Linked DNA regions of Homo sapiens. The protein of the gene in region 1 interacts with the protein of each later gene in a pairwise test. Each region holds a gene or a part of one and is shown on either strand. Other genes may lie near its edges.

Region 1 (5,691 bases):
GAAGAGACATTATTATTAAAAAGAAAGATTTCACTGCGTTGAAAAATAAAGATTGTAGTACAGCCAGGCCTCATGGGAACTAGTACTGGGAACCAGAAGGGTATCAGCAATCAAGATGACTATCTGCTTCTTTCTCTGCAGTGGTTATTATCAGTTCAGTTTGTTTCTATCTACTCCATTTCTTTGCATACCTATTATGTACTCATCATCTGGCTTACAGCTTGCTGTAAGTCACCTTCCAGCCCAATAGAGAGAACCTGATTGATTGATCTAGCTCATTTGGTCGAGCCTGACTTCCAAAATTAGAGGTTGCTGGTCAGCCAGGGAAATGGGCCCTTGAGACTGGTGACTAATCATTTATGGCTAGAGAAGCTTATAGGATCTTTTGAGGGTTTCACATGAGGAAACCGTGCTAAGGCCTGTGCCAAAGCAATATAGAATGTCTTGGTAGCACATGTAGGAGGCTGTACCTAATGATTGCGGTATCTTAAGATGGTTTACCAGAAGACTTGGAAATTTGAGCCTTGAAGAAGAGTGGAATTAGCATTCAAAATGGGAGTTAGCGAGGACATCGTAACCAAATGGAACAGCATATATGAAGACCCATATGTTTGTGATGTGTTGCTGGAACCACAGGTATCATTTTTGGGTGCATTTCCATGACGAGGCAAGAACAGAATAGTACCTTTAAGGAAATTTGATATGTGGAGTGACACAATGAAATTTAGTGTTTAGAAAGATCACTGTGGGAGCTTTGGTGGAAGACCATTAATAAGGATTTGAGGTTGGGTGCTGTGTGATTTCTTAAAAGCTGTTAAGTAATCCACATGAGAAATGATGAGGGTCTGAATTAAGGCATTGGTAATGAGAATGATGAAAAAACTAATGTGACAAATATTTACAAGGTACTCTAAGCAGGATATATTGACCAATTGGATGAGGACAGAAAGGTCAAGGATAATTTATCAGTTAGAATAAGTAGAGTTTTGGAAATAACTTCAGATCTTTGTAGTTTGACAATTTTTTTTTTCTTTTTTGAGACACAGTCTCACTCTCTTGCCCAGGCTGGAGTGCAGTGGTGTGATCTCGGCTCACTGCAAACTCTGCCTCCCGGGTTCAAGCAATTCTTGTGCCTCAGCCTCCCAAGTAGCTGGGATTACAGGTGTGTGGCACCACACCCAGCTAATTTTTGTATTTTTAGTAGAGATGGGGTTTCATCATGTTGGCTAGACTGGTCTCAAACTCCTGACATCAGGTGATCTGCCTGCCTCTGCCTCCCATAGTGCTAGGATTACAGGCATGAGCCACCCTGCCTGGCTGACAAAATATTTTTTAGACTAAATTCGTGGGGGTGGGAACTTTACTCATTGTGGTTATTCACTCTGGGATGAAGTTGATGAGTCCCAGCCATCTTTTGAATGTTGCCAGTCGTTGTGGTGGAGGAAAAGAGTCAAACAGTGGTTCTCAGAGCTTCTTCAGAATAGTGACACATGTCAGTTCTGCTCATATTTAACTGACCAAAGCAGGTTACATGGCCACACCTAACTTAAAGGAACAGAAAAATGGAATTTTATTGTGTACCTAGAAAGAGCTTTGGAAGTAGTTGGTGGGCAGTGCTTAGGATGGTCACACTAGTGACTCCTAGGTTTCGGACTTGGGTAGTATGATATCTTTTACTGAAATATGGAATGCAGGGGACAGAGGGCAAGACTGGTAAGGAAGGAGGTTGATGAATGTATTTTCAACTTACTTAGTGACCATCAAGGTGTAATATTCCAGCAGGCACTTGTACCTGGGAGTCTAGAGCTCACAAGAGGCCTGAATTGGTGATTTGGTCATGTAAAGGTGGTGAGTTAAGTCTGGATGTGCATACAGTTAACCTCAGTGTCAGTACACAAGTTGCTTTGACTTAGGTGTTGGGTTGGGTAAGGAGGGATTTTTGTTGAGGGCTGATGTGAATCCTGAATTGGATGCCCTTAGGCAGAAGTGAGTTGGATGCTAAGAGGTACATCCTTTTTTTTTTTTTTTTTTTTTTTTTTTTTGAGAAGGAGTCTCGCTCTGTTGCCTAGGCTGGAGTGCAGTGGCGCAATCTCGGCTCACTGCAAGCTCCGCCTCCCGGGTTCACGCCACTCTCCTGCCTCAGCCTCCTGAGTAGCTGGGACTACAGGCGCCCGCCACCACGCCTGGAGAATTTTTTGTATTTTTAGTAGAGACGGGGTTTCACCGTGTTAGCCAGGATAGTCTCGATCTCCTGACCTCGTGATCCGCCCGCCTTCCGCCTTGGCCTCCCAGAGTGCTGGGATTACAGGCGTGAGCCACTGCGCCCGGCGGTACATCTTTTATTTTCAACTTTAATTAGCCTTACTAATTGTGTTAATAATGTAAATAGTTTTAAGTTCTAAATGCAGATTCATTTTATTATCACATTGTTTGGTTAATAGCATAAATATATATAAATTTAACCGTTATTAATGTGGTTATTCTACGTTGTTTAAAGATGGTTTTGTTCCTGGACGTGAAGAATTACAAAGAAATCTGGATTTTTGGATTTTAAAAACGGCTAATGTTTGTGGAATTGCTAATTTAATAGTATGTCAGAATGGTTTAAAGATTCTTGATTAGTTGAATGATTACAGTTGCATGAAGTTTGGAATTAGATGATTAGACATTAGATGTTAACTTTGCGATTTACTAGTTCTGGAATTGTAGTCAGTTTTCTTTCCTGTTTTGTAAACAAAAGTAAATGACTATTAAGTCATATATTTTTCAAGTGATCTCTCTTTTTTTAGTGTGAAAAATCTTAAATGTTTCAAATAGATTTTAATATAAAATCTATGTTACAGATTACGTATGTACTTAGTTCGGTCTTTTTTTTCCTGCTAAAGACAATTACAGATTTTAATGAAAAGTAATTATGGATAGGCTGACAAAATGATTATCCATGAGGATAGTATATTTTCGAATCTAACAGGATGTATTCATTTTAGGAAAAGTTCCTTTCATTTGTGCTTTGTCTGGTTCATTTTTAGTATCGGCCTGCCTGGATTAAACTGAATCAAGTAGGACCAGTTAGAGTCTTTGTTGCCTATAAAATATGTAAGATTTTGTTTGTAAAATCTTTTGTCTGGAAAATCATCACTGTCCAGCTCTGGTGTATGCAAAATACCTCAATTTAAATTCCATACTACCTGACTCTTTCTAAGACTGTTGTGAAGTTTTTTAGTGATGTAAATGCTTGGGAAACACATTTAGGAAGAGTTGGAATGATGATAAAATTTGAAATCTTGAGGTTTGGAGCTTTTATAAAGGGATTTTTGCTTACATATGATACACTTTTTGAGTTAATTTTTGGGTTAAATTAGCTTTTTTTACATTCACTCGGATTAAGGATTGATTAATTTGAGTTCCAAGTTTTACAAGTAAGGCAGTAGGCCTGCCTGGATTGCCTTCTGTTGTGGTAGACAAATCACCATTAAATGACTAAGTTTCACTGTTTTATGTGTTAATGATCCTTAATAACAAAAAGTTTTAAAGTCTTAATTTCGTAAGATTATGTAAAGGTTAAGAAAGAAATTTTAAGTGAAAATGATAAAACCAAGCAAATGTTTATTAGTTCAATTGTTTTTCTTTTTATCTTGCAGCAACGCACCTCTTGCTTTTTCCTCCAAAGTATGTTATGTTAAGTTTCGTGATCCATCAAGTGTTGGCGTGGCCCAGCATCTAACTAACACGGTTTTTATTGACAGAGCTCTGATAGTTGTTCCTTGTGCAGAAGGTTGGTATCTCGCTTTTTTTCCTCTTATTTGAATTTCTGTCCTGTCTGTTATTGCCTTTAGCTTTCCTAGAGATTGGCAAGTAGACAGTACTCTTGGTGTGTGTGTGAAAGTAAGAATGAAATTTGGAGGAGGTAAACCTTTTTACCTAATAGTAATATTAAAATGGTTAATTTATGACATGTACATTTGAGGTTTTACAATTTAACATTCATTGGCTTCTGGTTTGCTTTGGCTTTCTGTAGTCAATTTGCAGATTGCAAAGAAAGCTTTCTGAAATTAAAAAATAATTGATATGGGAAATTATTTTAAATGCATAAACAAGCATTTACCTTGTGTGTTCAATATTAATACTATTACAAATGAAAATAGTGTACACATTTTGGCAAATTGGGGTTAAGTGATATTTATAAGAAAATATTTGTAATTTATACTTTCAAGTACACTCTTAAGGTAATTTACCTTAATTGTTACTATGAGATCATTATTTTATATTCAATGTAATTGTTTGCTTTGCAACTGGAATTTAATGTTTTCTTTTACTGGCCCCAAAAAGGGGCAGGAGGAGTGTTGGAAAAAAAGGAAAGCAATTTTCCAAAGCCTCCATGAAGGAAGTAGTTGTTGAAGATAGGAACAAAGGCCTTAAAGTATCCATTAAATTTTATGACCTAAACTGCTTTAAGAACTAATTATTACTAATATTTTTTAGTAACTTCTGTTTACAGAGCCACTCACGTATAATAGACTGTGCTGAATTTTGACACTTCTGGTGTATAATTAACTTTTATTCAGAGCACTGACTAGCATGTGTACAGGATTTTAGAATTGGGTTATTATAAATTAAAATGTCTTAAAGTAGATTTTCTCTGGTGGATGATTGAAACTGTTTTAAACATAAAGGTTTATGGAAAACAGTTTGATGGGCTTTCATATGTAATTTTTAAAACCTCTTTTAGTGGCCAGGCTGACATTAAAATAATATATAATAAGCAGTTTGCTGCACTTTAAAGGTTTTATGCTTATTTCAGAATGCCTGTTCTGGGATGTCAAAAACATTACAGTCTAATACAGTGAGTACCAGGCTCGTATTTTTTAAGTCCCAGAATAGGACATTCTCAGTATTTTTCAGATAAATTTGGAAGTGTCTTTCCCATGCTTGGGGGTTAGAGTGGGTAGGGAAGATAAAAATGGATTAAAGTTAATTATTGGCCAAATGTATCTTTATCTGCTGATCTGTAAGGCTACAGTAAGCCCCAAATTGGTGAGGTGGGAAAGGAGCTGGTGAATGGTTTCGTTCTACAAACTTTGTAGTGAAATTTCATACTGAGAAACTGCATGGGAAAAAAGAAATCAGGTAAAAGGTTTATTAAACTGGAATATTAATTATATCAGAAAATTAATACCACCAATAACACTGGGTCTTTTATTGTGTTAGCTTATTACTGAATTGGAAGGAAGAATTTTATCAGTGTTGCTTGGTTGAAACCTGCTTTATTCCCATAGAATCTTTCATATATCTGAGAAGCCCTACTGTATTTTGTTATAAATGTTCAAGATGATGGGCGTGTAGATGTCCCTTTTATTGTTTATTTTACTTGATAGAGATGAATAAATGCACAGTCAGATGTACCTTTTTAGTGTTTTTAATATTACAACTTGGACAGTTTTACTGTTTTTGAACAGAAAAATTTAAGCATACTTTTATTGCAATTTAGTTATAAGTAAGTAAATATTTTGAAACACTAACCTACAGTTGGTATTGGTGAAACATTCAGATATACGTTTTTCATTAGTTGTATTAAATACGGCAGAGATGAATTTATGGAACCTCGAGAATTTCACAGTGAGCTGTTAAAATACTGATTATGCACTACAAGCAAAGAAATAGTGCATTATTGTACTAAAAAAGATAGCAGAG
Region 2 (2,325 bases), on another chromosome or scaffold:
ATACAAGCTATATAGTATGGTACATATCATGAAAGTACAGAGTAAAAATGTTAACATGTTTTTGAACTCTGGAATATTGTTTTAATTTTCAGTGTGAAAAAAAAGGTGCAGTTTGATGGAACAAATTCCGCATTTAAAGAGCTGAAGTTTTTAACACCAGTGAGACGTTCTCGACGTCTTCAAGAGAAAACTTCTAAATTGCCAGATATGTTAAAAGATCATTATCCTTGTGTGTCTTCATTGGAACAGCTAACGGAGTTGGGAAGAGAAACTGATGCTTTTGTATGCCGCCCTAATGCAGCACTGTGCCGGGTGTACTATGAGGCTGATACAACATAAGAGAAATAAAGCTCTGTTAGGGAATGGGGTTTTTATTATTTGTGGGGTGTTTTGTTTTGAGTAGCTTTATATTGCTCTTAGGTCTGGAGTTGGCCATGTACCTATGTATCCTAAGCATTCACGGCAGTGAGCTCCTTTACTAACATTCATGTTATGGCAAGAGTTGTCCTCTACATTGGAAAGCTAATCCTACCTTGTCAGTTTCAACCAACTGAGTTTTTTCTTTAAGAAAGGTAAATTTTGTCAGCTAGTTTACTATGTTCCTTGAATATAAACAGGTTATAATACTACCCTGTTCACTTTACTAAATATAAGTACAGTAATGATGCATAATTAGAAAATGAGGTATTCTAGGTAAAATGTATGTTTGCCTTGACATGTTTTTAAAAGTTATGATGTACCTCCCTGCCTTTAAACAGAATACTTTTTTCTTTTTTTTGGCCTTTCTCAGATTAGTCAAAAATTCTATAGAATGACTCACTTCGAATACTAAGACACAGGAGGTTTAGCCTGCTTTCTTACCAAATTCATGTTACCCAGACTTGTGTTCTCTTGCGTCCCTTGGACTGCCTGTTGATTGATGGAAAGTGTCTGCACTGACACTTTTCGTCAGTAGTCTGTAGTTTCGTGGCCTCTTTTGATTATAACTGGGGTCACCAAGAAGGTTTACTTAATTAAATACCGCATTTCTAAGAGAAGATACTTTGTGTAAGAAAAGATGCCACATTTAGTGGTTTAACTTTTGTAACTTCACTTGATAGTTTTTAAGCAATTAGAATGGAGTTAGGGAAAGAACATATCATACTGAACAAATGTCATTCTAGTTTAGATAGCATTTCTAAGATAACTGATACTAATACTTGTTTTCTTCCCTATAACATAAAAAACTTCACTGTTAAGTCATGTCCCTTGAAACATGATAGTTACATACACAGTTTTCTCTCCACACATAAATAACACCACTAAAGTTGTTTTGTAAGGTTCCAAACTAATATGGCATATATCAACTCTACAGTTTCAAATAAATGACTTTTTAATTGTAAAAGATTAGTTGAAAAACTGTATGAATGTGAAGATCACATGCTTAGTCATTTTTATGTTCATTCCACTTTGTATATCTTTTCTATTTATTGACTTCTCATGTTCTAGAGAGTAGGACTTTTATTCCGTGTACCTGATATATATACAATTAAAATATCTGTGTAATTATGTTTTAATGAAGTTTATTTCAACAGATATTTTATGAAATGCAGTTTAACCACAGTGAATGAATTTTAGCTTTGCTTTTGAAATACATTGTAAGATTTGACTTGAGGTTTTTGACACTTAAGTACATGCTTAATGATATATTTTCAAAAGTCATCAGTCTACTTACATAAACTTTACCTAATTTTTTTCACTTTAACAAAAACATAACTATGCCCTTGTTTTTTCATACTTTGACCCAAAATATGCCATTTTGAAATAAAATTTAAGCTTTGATACACTCTCAGCTTTTTAATATCTGTACCATATAATTCATTTGTCTGTATAGCAGAGTTTGAAATGCCTCTGTTAGAGAACTCAAGATACAACTTTTATGTTTGGACAAGTTTTTAAGAGTGTTTTTTTTCCTCCTTTACCTGAGGGGAAAATCTGTCTCTAAATATTCCTAGTTCTAACATTCAACCAGAGGTCTAACCCCTTTTCTGGTGCTTAAGGACAGCTATGTTATCTCTCCCCTAGGTTTGTTCCAAGCTAAATGATGTGATACCGTGCATAAGCATCCAGTAGAGACATAACAGGGACCCCTCTTAAGGGCCCGCTTGGATCTTCCCGTGTATAGTAATAAAGGAAAAATCTTGAGTCTCTTCAAGGGAAATTCCAGGTAGCTACCTAGCTAGCCTCAAAAAAGTAAATTGAACATCCTGGAATAAGGAAAAAAATGTTTCGTTTCCTATAGTAATGAAAGAACATCTTGACGCTGAATTTTTTGGAAACCCAGAT

The links. The genes of interacting proteins can lie anywhere in the genome.
Region 2: the proteins of SREK1 (region 1) and CKAP2 interact in a two-hybrid assay, tested with the Homo sapiens proteins (one large-scale study listed by BioGRID).

The regions. Positions count from the first base shown.
Region 1 is NC_000005.10:66,149,822-66,155,512, forward strand, and holds part of SREK1 (splicing regulatory glutamine/lysine-rich protein 1), read left to right. Parts: intron 1-3,641; coding exon 3,642-3,775; exon of another isoform or gene 3,776-5,691. UniProt on the Homo sapiens protein: Participates in the regulation of alternative splicing by modulating the activity of other splice facors. Inhibits the splicing activity of SFRS1, SFRS2 and SFRS6. Augments the splicing activity of SFRS3.
Region 2 is NC_000013.11:52,474,803-52,477,127, forward strand, and holds the end of CKAP2 (cytoskeleton-associated protein 2), read left to right. Parts: intron 1-92; coding exon 93-339; 3' UTR 340-1,825; downstream 1,826-2,325. UniProt on the Homo sapiens protein: Possesses microtubule stabilizing properties. Involved in regulating aneuploidy, cell cycling, and cell death in a p53/TP53-dependent manner.